Linked DNA regions of Homo sapiens: region 2 is linked to region 1. Evidence: fine-mapped expression QTL. Tissue or cell type: whole blood. Region 1 holds a variant in brackets; the other region holds the start of a gene. All regions are shown on one strand. Distances are from middle to middle.

Evidence for each region. PIP is the estimated chance that this variant, and not a neighbour inherited with it, causes the effect.
Region 2: TRPC4AP starts here. The variant in region 1 is fine-mapped to the expression of TRPC4AP in whole blood (GTEx, PIP above 0.99). The same link has a PIP of 0.9 or more in tibial nerve.

Annotation. Positions count from the first base shown.
Region 1 is chr20:35,002,041-35,007,239 of GRCh38, forward strand. It overlaps MYH7B (myosin heavy chain 7B), which reads left to right. Exons shown (of 45, transcript NM_020884.7): 44 at 1-45; 45 at 137-397. The coding sequence ends at 148. TRPC4AP (transient receptor potential cation channel subfamily C member 4 associated protein) reads right to left here. Exons shown (of 19, transcript NM_015638.3): 15 at 4,395-4,535; 16 at 3,655-3,763; 17 at 2,418-2,530; 18 at 1,370-1,576; 19 at 364-1,243. The coding sequence ends at 1,106. Among named protein-coding and RNA genes, the nearest start is that of MIR499B, 14 kb to the left of the region's middle. The variant T/C (reference allele first, on the strand shown) is at 2,279.
Region 2 is chr20:35,089,963-35,095,091 of GRCh38, forward strand. It overlaps TRPC4AP (transient receptor potential cation channel subfamily C member 4 associated protein), which reads right to left and starts at 2,845. Exons shown (of 19, transcript NM_015638.3): 1 at 2,652-2,845. The coding sequence starts at 2,819. RefSeq lists an enhancer at 531-1,090 and a silencer at 2,617-2,746.

The DNA of each region.
Region 1 (5,199 bases):
GCCAACAAGCTGCGGGCACGGACCCGGGACGCCCTGGGCCCCAAGGTGAGGAGTGGCAGGGGCATTGCTCTCTGTGCAGGGGGACTGTGGGGGCTGACAGGTAGTACTGCTCACTCAGCTATCCCTTTCTCCTCAGCACAAGGAGTGACGGCCTGACCCCCTGGGCTCTAAAGAGGAATGTCTGCTGTTGCACATCTGGCTGAGGCCACCTGCCCCGATCCTGCCATCTCTGCATCGCCCCCTGCTGCCTTCAGCCTTCCCTGGGCCCTGAATAAACACCACAGCCAGTTTCCTTCTCATTCTTTTCTTTGGGGTTCAGGAGGAAAAACACAGTCCTAGGGACAAAAGCCAGGTCCACAGCAGTCATTTTTAAAATAAAGTTATTTAATAGTCTCCATTTAATTGGTTTATTTGCTGTTAATAAATTGGCAACACAAGGAAGGGCCCCATGTCCAGGCTCAGGCAGGAGCGGCTGCCTCAGGCAGAGGCAGGGCAGGCACAGCTGCCCCGTGCCCCAAGGGATGGAGGGAAAGGCCCCTCACTTCTGGGAGAACCCCCTTGGATGAACACAGCGGCCAATGAGCAAACAGAACCAGAGGAGCTACAGGAAAATGAGGCAGAGGGGCAGGCTTGGGGGAAGGCAGCATTCTCTGGTACCCACCACCCCTGCCCAGGGCTCAGAAGCCTTTGCCTGGGTCCAAAGGCCAGGGACAAGGGAGGCTTGGCTCACAGATGGGGGGTGGGGGTCACCCATATCTTCCTCCCCACTCTGGGACTGACTGACAGCCAAGAAACCGGCAGGAGCTCACACAGAGCTAATGCTAAATGTCCTCTTACCTCTGGGTGGCCCTGGGCCCCAGGGTTCTGAAGGAAAGGTGGGCATGGTACCCTGTCCTCATTATGGGGACTGAGGCTCTCCATGACCTAGGGCCCTCAGACCCAGGGGGACCAAGGGCTTCTAGGACTTCCCTCCCACCAAGCCTGTACCCAAAGACCTGGGGCAGGCAGAGAGCAGCAGGGAGGAACGGGAACAGGGCAGGGCGTGTGGCATCGTACCCACGCTCACCCACACTGGCCCAGCAGCCTCCCGAGGCCTGGCCCAAGGTCACTCCTCAGTGAAGTCCCTGTCTATGTCCATGTAGGGCTCCTCAATGTAGCTAACGAGAGCAGAGGGTGACTGCCGGTCCGGGTTCAACAGGATGGACACTGTCTCCTTCCAGTATGAGAAGCTGATGCAGGAGCTCTGGGCAAAGAGGGAGGGGCTGGGGGGCGCCTGGAGGACCCAGGTCAAGCCCAGCACCGGGACACCCCTCTGAGAGGCCCTGGGTCCGCGGCCCACCCATCACCCCCTTGAGGGTGGGGCACTCACGTTCTCTAGGCAGGTGCTGTCCTTGTCCTTGTGCAGGTAGTGCTGCTGCCAGAAGCGCAGCAGGTTGTGGAAGTTGTTGAGCAGGAAGCCGGGGTACTTCTTGCTGTGCTCCATCCGCTGCAGCAGCCGCAGGTACAGGGGCAGCCGCTCTTTCCGTCGGGCCAGCATCAGGATCACCAGGCTGGTGTTGAGGCAGCTGACGTTCTCCTGCAAGGCCACAGGCCCACAGGGTCAGGGGCTGGTGGGAGCCCCAGTGGCCCCTGGTGAACCTGGGTAGCCATCAGGCAGGGAGGAGAGTGGCCCCAGGCCTCGGGCCACCCACAGAGCTCTCCCTGCACAGAGGTGAGATAGGACTGGGGGAAGGGGGCCCCCAGCAGCCCCAGTTTCCTGACTGAGCACCTTCCTCTTCCCCACGCCCACCTCCCACCCCACCTGAGGCAACAACACCTGTCCCTGTCCAGACCTGGGCTCAAGCATCACTCCTTCCGGAAGGTCCGTCCCAGGCAGGGCTGGGTGCGTGTGTTGGGGCGGTTATCCCGCTTCAGAAGTGCCATTCAGCACTAGCCTGCGCGCCTCGGTGGGGAAAGAGTTCTGCCCCACTCACCATGCACTCCCACCTGGTGCTTCACCTCAGAACGGAACCAAAGACCACCTCTGAGAGGTGCTAAGATCACCCTCACTCTAGAAAAGAGGGGCAGGAGGCTCAGAGAAGGGAAGGCTGCATGACTATTCAGTGAGGGAGTTGGGCAGCCTCAGGTCCGATTCCAAAGCCCAGCAGGGCAGAAGGTGTGAGGGACGTGGACATGGGGGAGGCGGGGAGAGCACTGGCCTGCAAGTCAGCCTGTGACCTGAGGGCACTTGCGAGCCCTCCTTCCTTAGGCCCTGTCTGTACAATGGGACACTGATTCC[T/C]CCTGAGCACAGTCCTCAGAAGAGCTGGGTCTCCAGAGACGCACTTCTGGAGTGGGGGACAGAAACCTGCTGGGCACCAGGACAAAGGAAGTGGTTTCCAATCGACCTTCCCTGCTGTGTGTCTGCCGGGGCCTCTCACCTGGGTCAGCGTCTGCACGTGGATGATGTTGATGAGGCGGAAGAGGAAGGACATCTGCGTGGGCACCTGGGATATGTAGGCGAGCAGGCGGCATTCAGACAGTACCTCGGCAACTGTGGAGGGAGGCAGGGGTGCAGCAGGTCAGGCTTAGGCCCAGTGGCTGGGTCGCCCAGGCCTTTCGTGGAGCCCCGCTTGGGTCCTGACTCTGAAGCTAGGAGCTCATCATCAAAACAGCTTCAACGAAAGCTGACTGTGGCAGAAAGAAGGACCTCCAGCTGTCCTGCTACCAGGCAAAGCCATGTTCTCAGAGTGCCCAGGAGCACCCCACCTCATCCTCCAGAACCAAGCTCAGGGCAGCTCTCCCTCAGCCCTCCCCAGACTGGCTCCAGACCCGTGCCCTCCATATCACACACAGAAGAGTTCCCTCCACAGGAAGATGGATCCATGACGCTGCATTAAGAAAAACAACGCAAAAGTTCCACTCCTTCTGCAGAGGTCCTAGCGCAACTGGTTTTCCACACCAGCTCTCAGGTGAGTCCGGCCCAGTGCTGAGACCACAAGGCACAGGTTCTGCTCCGTCCACTAGTGTCGGAGCAACTGCTTCCCGCACAACTGGGAGGCAGGGCAATAACCGAAGGTACCAAAATCTGTGTGGCTGTTCCCCTGAAACAGACCCTCTGGGGCAGAAAAAGGAAGCAAACGGCTAAATTACCAACAACCGGGATACTTCTTGCTATCAATGACAGTGACCGTGACAAGGAACAAGTGCCTGACTTTTTGGGGGTGTGGGGGGGTCACAAACCCTCAGGAGAATCTGCTGGATGCCACAAGCCCTCTCCTAGGAAAAAAAGGAAACGCGTGCGCATACACATGGAAGTGCGTTAGCAAGTCCAGGAGGGTTCAGATGCCTGCTGCACCACAGGGCACCTGCGATGCCACGCACAGCACACTGAGGACGAGGGGGCCAACTCATCGTGCCAGGCAATACCAGCCCAGAAGAGGAAGGTCTTTTTCTGGTTTTCTTTGCATCTTGCTAGCAACAATGGATTTTCACCTTATTAAAGTGTTGAACAAGGCAGCAAAGCCAATTGCCCTGGAAGCCGCCACCTTGAGGCCGGCCACGTGGGCATCTGGTGCAGCTCCCTCAGTCATTCTTGTCTCCCTGCTGGAGACAGGGTGTCTGATGCCAGCATTCTTACCCTGCATGACTTGCCTTGACAGCCTGCCTTTCATGTACCTTTCATATCCACCTGGTTTTCAAATCGGTCCAGGGACAGAGTGACACAGCGCACCAGCATGTTGGAGTCCACCAGGGAGCTGTTGATCTGCTTCAGGAATACCTGGAACTATACAGAAACCAAGCTCACAGCAGGCAGTGGGCTGCTGGCCAGGTATGGCCATGGCCCGGGGGGATAGTCACTACAAGGGGCATCAGCGACCTCTACCAGCCCCACTGCTTCAGATAGGAAGACAGAGGCTCAGATAAGCTGAGGGACCTCCCCTCACCACCCAGGTACTAAGAGGCACTCCCCGGAATTCAGCACAGATCCGACACTCTCTCCAGTGGTTTTACGCTCAAGGGTGCTGGATTCCTTTAATTTTTACTTTTAATTTTACTTCAGCTAGCCTGAGCTGGGTTTCTGTCACACACACTCGGTGAGCCTAACACACCAGGCCCAGTCCCTCCCTACAGCGGCTCCCACCGTGGCACCCACCATGCTGCGTCACGGCAGGCGCACAAGCCACCCATTCCCACCCTCACTCCCTACCCACAAGCAGCCCCGGTTTTCATCCCTGCATTCCCAGGGTCTAGCACAAAGCCAGACAGAGCAGGTTCCAATGAATGTTTGCCAAAGACTGCCCAGACTCCCCCGTCGTCTCTAACGTAAAACCTGTGCCTAAAGCCTGGCAGACCAGGACTCCAGGTGAACTTCTGGACAACCCAGCACACTCCACAGAGCCCTGGGTTAACTTTACCTTTGCATCGGTGTTGATATATTTATTGAATCTCTTGAATGCATCAACGTTGAACTTCATCAGCTCCCCCAGGAGGTCAAAGTAACTCTGGAGCACATCCCTTGACTTACACTCGCTGTCCACAATGCAGTAAAGGATGTGCTGGGTGAGGAGGGACAGGGTGAAGGTGTCAACGTGGCTGCCCCCACCAGGGCCTGGCATGGAGCTCAGACCATGCATTGGCTTTGAGCAAGCATCCTGGGGATGGAACTGGCAACACTGTCTAGATTCTTGTCTGAGGATGCTGGTGGCTCCAAGGACAGGACCAGGCCTGACAGACCTCACCAGGAGGTGGAGCAGACTGGGAATGCAGCACAATCTCTCCCCTGCCCAGGGCGTACAGCTGAAGCCTGTGACCTGCTCTGTGGTCACCAAGATGGCCGGGGTGCTCAGCTCCTAGGTGAGGGGAGCTGTCATCACCAGGTCTAAAACACAGGCCACTGCCTAAGCACTGAGGTCATTCAAGTAAATGAAGGACAGAATTTAAAAGCAAAGGACACATTTTGACCCCATGGTTTGTCTTTGTGTTTATGAACGAAATTGTTTAAATAGAGTTTACACCAAAATACTGAGTTTTCATCAAGAGAATAAAGCCAATTTACTCCTTTATAAAGTTTTCTACATTTTCTTGAAGTTACATTGATTTGGATCAATTCTTTTCCACATGGATTTTATAATTCGTGGGTCAGTTTCTTGTCCATATGAAAAAATCTGAAAGACCAATTATAACTTTGGCCATTCTGCTCTAAGTTTTACTTTTTCTGAA
Region 2 (5,129 bases), 88 kb after region 1:
TACAAAAATTAATGGGGTGTGGTGGCACACGCCTGTAGTCCCAGCTACTAGGGAGGCTAAGGTGGGAGGATCACTTGAGCCCAGGAAGTTGAGCTTGCCACTGCACTCCAGCCTGGGTGACAGAGCAAGATTCTGTCTCAAAAAAAAAAAAGGGTAAGCAAATAACTTATTCTGCAGGATGGGAGAGAGGAGCGGAAGGGCACAGCATGGAATAAATTAAAAAAAAAAAAAACTAAGAAAAGAAATATTTGAAAGATGAAGGTCCCCATTTTATCCTCACTATAGCTCCAGGCAGGGGGTCTCTACTTCAACTTCTGAAATAGCTCCCACACCTATATACAACCATCAGTTACCACAATAACCTGCCTTGCTTTTGTGGCTCCAGAATATTCCAGCAGCCTTGTATCTGGTGAGCTTTTTTTTTTTTTTTTTGAGATGAAGTCTCACTATGTCACCCAGGCTGGAGTGCAGTGGCGTGATCTCAGCTCACAACCTCCACCTCCCAGGTTCAAGCAATTCTCCTGCCTCAGCCTCCAGAGTAGCTGGGATTACAGGTGCTTACCACCACGCCCGGCTAATTTTTGTATTTTTAGTAGAGACGGGGCTTCGCCATGTTGGCCAGGCTGGTCTCAAACTCCTGACCTCAGATGATCCACCCGCCTCGACCTCCCAAAGCACTGGGATTACAGGAATGAGCCACTGTGCCCAGCCTCTGGTGGGCTTTTCTAGGCTCCTCCCATTCTAAGTCATTCAGCACTGGAAACAAATTAAGTTGCCTAAATTGCCTCATTTATCATGCTAAAGAACTTCTGTGGCTCCCTATTATTCTCAGAACACTGATTATCAGGATGGGTGTTTAGGAACATATCATCTAACCTCTCTGAGCCTCAGTTTCCTCATCCATATTAAGAAATGAGTCTTGAAGCATAACTCAAAAGCTTGAGGATTAAAGATAACATATGCCTTGTACCGTACTTTTTCTAAAGGTTATGTGCTCACTAAAAGTTAGTCCTCTTTCTGCCTGTCTCTACACACCCAGCTCGGTAAGGTATCTTAGCTTAAGAAGGAAAGAGCAAGTATTTCTAGGATTTTTTTTTTTTTTTGAGACAGGGTCTCACTCTGTCAATCTCCGCCTCCCAGGCTCAGGTAATCCTCCCACCTCAGCCTCCCCACAGGCACACACCACCACCATGCCCGGCTAAATTTTTGGAGACACAGGATTTTGCCGTGTTGCCTGGGCTGGTCTCGAATTCCTGGATTCAAGCGATCTGCCTGCCTCGGCCTCCCAAAGTGCTGGGATTACAGGGTCTTAAGTCAGGTCTTAAGAACACAAGGGGGAAAAAGGCTGCTCATCTATGGTTGTGTGATGGCCAGGAAAACATTTCTCACTCACAACTGCTCCTTTCGTCCACAGTCCTCCATACACACAGACCCCCTAGCCTTTATTTTATTCTATCCTTTTCGTCATTTGAGGAAGTGATATTCAAATTAAATTTAAATAAAGTTACACTGTGAAAAGTCTCACTCCCATTTTCTCCCCCTTTAGCCCAATTCCCACCTCACTCCCACCAACCACTTTATCAGTTTCTTGAGTATCCTTCAAACTTTTTATGAAAAAGCTGTCTTTAAATAAAGCTAATGTTTTACAGGTGTTAGCAAGGTTCGGGGTGGGGGAGGGTGGAAGAAGTAGTGGACTAGGTCCTATTCAACCTGGTTTACCCTAAAGCAGTGTCCTTCGCTCACTCAAAAATAACAATAATCATATGTTGGGCACCTGTTATAAGTCAGATGCTTAATATTAACTACCTTCAGCCCTTAGTATGCACCAGAAATGCACTAATGCTTTACACAATTGCCCCCTTTGATCTCCACAACAATCTTAAAAGGTAGGTTACTAATTCTCATCTTCATCTTACAAGTGAGGAAACTGAGGCACAGAAAGGTCACCTGCCCAAGCAAGAGAGAGGAGCAGGGCTTTGAACCCAGGCCTGACTCCAGAGTCCCTCTTAACCGTGACGCTCTACACTAGCAAACCAGATATAGTCTCTGCACCCGCTGGAACTCAGCCTAATGTGGGAGACGGGCGAGAAAAAGGCAGACAACAAAGAAATACGAAATTATAGACTAAGAAAGTAATGTAAACGAAACGAATTCGCGGCTGTGACAGAATAACAATGGGGACCTACTTTAGAAAGGGGAAGGAAAGAGTGTCAAGGAAAGGCCTGAGAAAATGACATTTATGAAATGCTCGGGAACCATTTGGGGGCTGCAATGATGACCCCCTCCCCCACGCCCAATACACGGGATAAACTCGAGGCCCACAGAGGCTAAAACAAACACGACAGGGTCCCCCAGACGTGTAGACGTGGCGCAAAGAAGGGAGGATCCAGAAACTGGGCCCAGGGTTCGTACACGCCATCAGTGTCCACAGCAGCCCAGCCCCGCTCGGCCCCTGACAAGGGACATCAAGCCAGCTGCTTCCCACGGCCCCGCTGCAGCTGAGAGCGTCCGGGCAGCTCACAGGGAGGCCTTCCGGCCAGCCAAAAGGGCTTTGGCCCGTCCAGCGGCGGCCTGGAAAGGCCTCTTCCCCGGCCCCCCGCCAGCTCCCGCCTGGTCCGCCCCGCCCCGCCCCTCCTGGTCCAGCCTCGTACCTGCACCGCCCGGACCAGGCCCCGGCCGGTCAGCTGGCCCTGCCGCAGCTGCAGCAGAATGTTACCAGGCCGCGGCCGGCCGCCCCATCCGCCCCAAGCCGCCACTGTGGCTGCCGACCGTCTCCCTCGGCCGGCTCCAGACCCAGCCGCTACCGGCGCCGCCGCCATGTCTCCTCGTCGGACAAACAGGAAGCAAGCGGCCTCGGGGCCGCGGAGATTTCTACGGGGCGGCGGAGGGGTCGCCGCAGCGCCCCCAGTGGGCCGTCGGCGGAGGCGCAAGCCGCGTGGCAGGGACCGTGTGCGGCGTGGAGGCTACTGGGAATTGTAGTCCTGCGCGGCAGCGGGGTAGGTGGGAAAAGAGATGTGGCCTTTCCTGCACTGCCGGTTTCTCTGGCCCCCGGGCCCAGCATTTCGGCGAAATCTCCCAAGGTCCACATTCTCCCATTTCTCTCGCCGATTTGGGCAGGATGCAGGCAGCTGGCCAAGAAATGATCCTGGGCTTCAGGTCAGGAGTCAGGCCCTCGAGTCCGCTTCCTGCCTGCTTCTCTCTACACGTGACTCACCGCGGACATCGACCAAGTCATCGCGCTCTGCCACTGCGCCTGTGTCCTCGTCAGGTCACTCCATCTATAGATTCTGGGAGCCTGATCAATCGTAGTTCCTGGGGCTTTCTCTGCGCCCGACACCAAACCATGTCTAGGGGAAAGGGAGGGTGTCTGGGATACAGTGGTGAGCAGAACGGCCTGGGATCCTTTATCACGAAATGCAGGTTACAGGGGAAGACAGCAGATCCATACACAAAGAAACGCAGTCTCAAACTGGATAAGTTGTGTAACTGGGTAGGTTGTTGTGAAATTAAATAATGGAAGGGAAAGGGATTAGTAAATTGTGACATCATATTCTCTGTCAGATGAAAACCCTGTCCTAATTTCTATCCACCAGATAGCATGTTGTCTCTAATACTCATTTTTTCAGCTAACTTCTGTGGCAGGATGGCACTGACTCCCCCCACCCAACACACACACACTTTTTCCCTTCCTAGCAGGGGGCCTGTAATAAAAATGAAAGAGGAGAGCTAAGTGTGATGTAACAGGGAATGGTGAAGATTGTGACTCATAACTAAGATGACTGTAACTTACTGCTCAAACCAGAACACTTTAAAGAATGAAAAGACACAATAAATAATTACACCGGGACGGTAGGCATAAAAGTGACTCTCCCAGGTGAACTGGCACTATGGTTACCATCCTCACACCCCATCTAAAAGGAGTAGACTCACCATCCATCTTCATAGAACTAGAAAAAAGAATCCTAAAAATCATATGGAACCAAAAAAGAGCCTGCATGTCCAAAGCAAGACTAAGCAAAAAGAATAAATCTGGAGGCATCACATTACCTGACTTCAATCTATACAATAAGGCCATAGTCACCCAAACAGCATGGTACTGGTATAAAAATAGGCACATAGACCAATGGAACAGAATAGAGAACACAGTATAAAACCAAATACTTATAGCCAACTGATCTTCGATAAAGCAAACAAAAACATAAAGTGGGGAAAGGACACCCTATTCAACAGCTGGTGATAACTGGCAAGCCACATGCAGAAGAATGAAACTGGATCCTCATCTCTCACATTATACAAAAATAAACTCAGCCGGGTGCAGTGGCTCACACCTGTAATCCCAGTGGCTCACACCTGTAATCCCAGCACTTTGGGAGGCCGAGGTAGTCAGATCATGAGGTCAGGAGTTCGAGACCAGCCTGGCCAACATGGTGAAACCCCATCTCTACTAAAAATGCAAAAATTAGCTGGGCGTGGTGGCATGCACCTGTAGTCCCAGCTACTTGGGAGGCTGAGGCAGGAGAATCACTTGAACCCTGGAGACAGAGGTCACAGTGAGCCGAGATCACGCCACTGCACTCCAGTTTGATGACAGGATGAGACTCCATCTCAGAAAAAAAAAAAAAAATAGCCAAAGAAGTTACAGTCAGGAGATATTTTGTTCCCTATAGAAACTGAATATAACATCTTAAAATTTGTCCCTGAGTGTTGTTTCTTAGAAACTCGAACCCCCACCAAATGGATCTGCTGATAGGCAAACTCAGATAAGGGAGAGCTGAGAACTAAACTTTGACTTCTATTTTTTGTTATAAATTTCTTCCTAGGGGGCCTGGAGGAGGACACGACCATAAGTCAGAGCTAACATTCTTTTCTGCAGATCCCAAATTTTTAGACAAAGCTTTACCTCCTTAACCAATTACAAGTCAGAAAATCTTTGAATCCACTTGTGGGCCCCTGGTTGGAGATGTCCTGTCTTTTTAGGTGGAACCAATATACAGCCCCTATGTATTGATTTATGACTTCGCCTGTGGCCTCTGCCCTCCTGCCATTAAAAACCTGTAAGCCGGCTGGGCGCGGTGGCTCACACCTATAATCCCAGCACTTTGGGTGGCCGAGGCAGGTGGATCACCTGA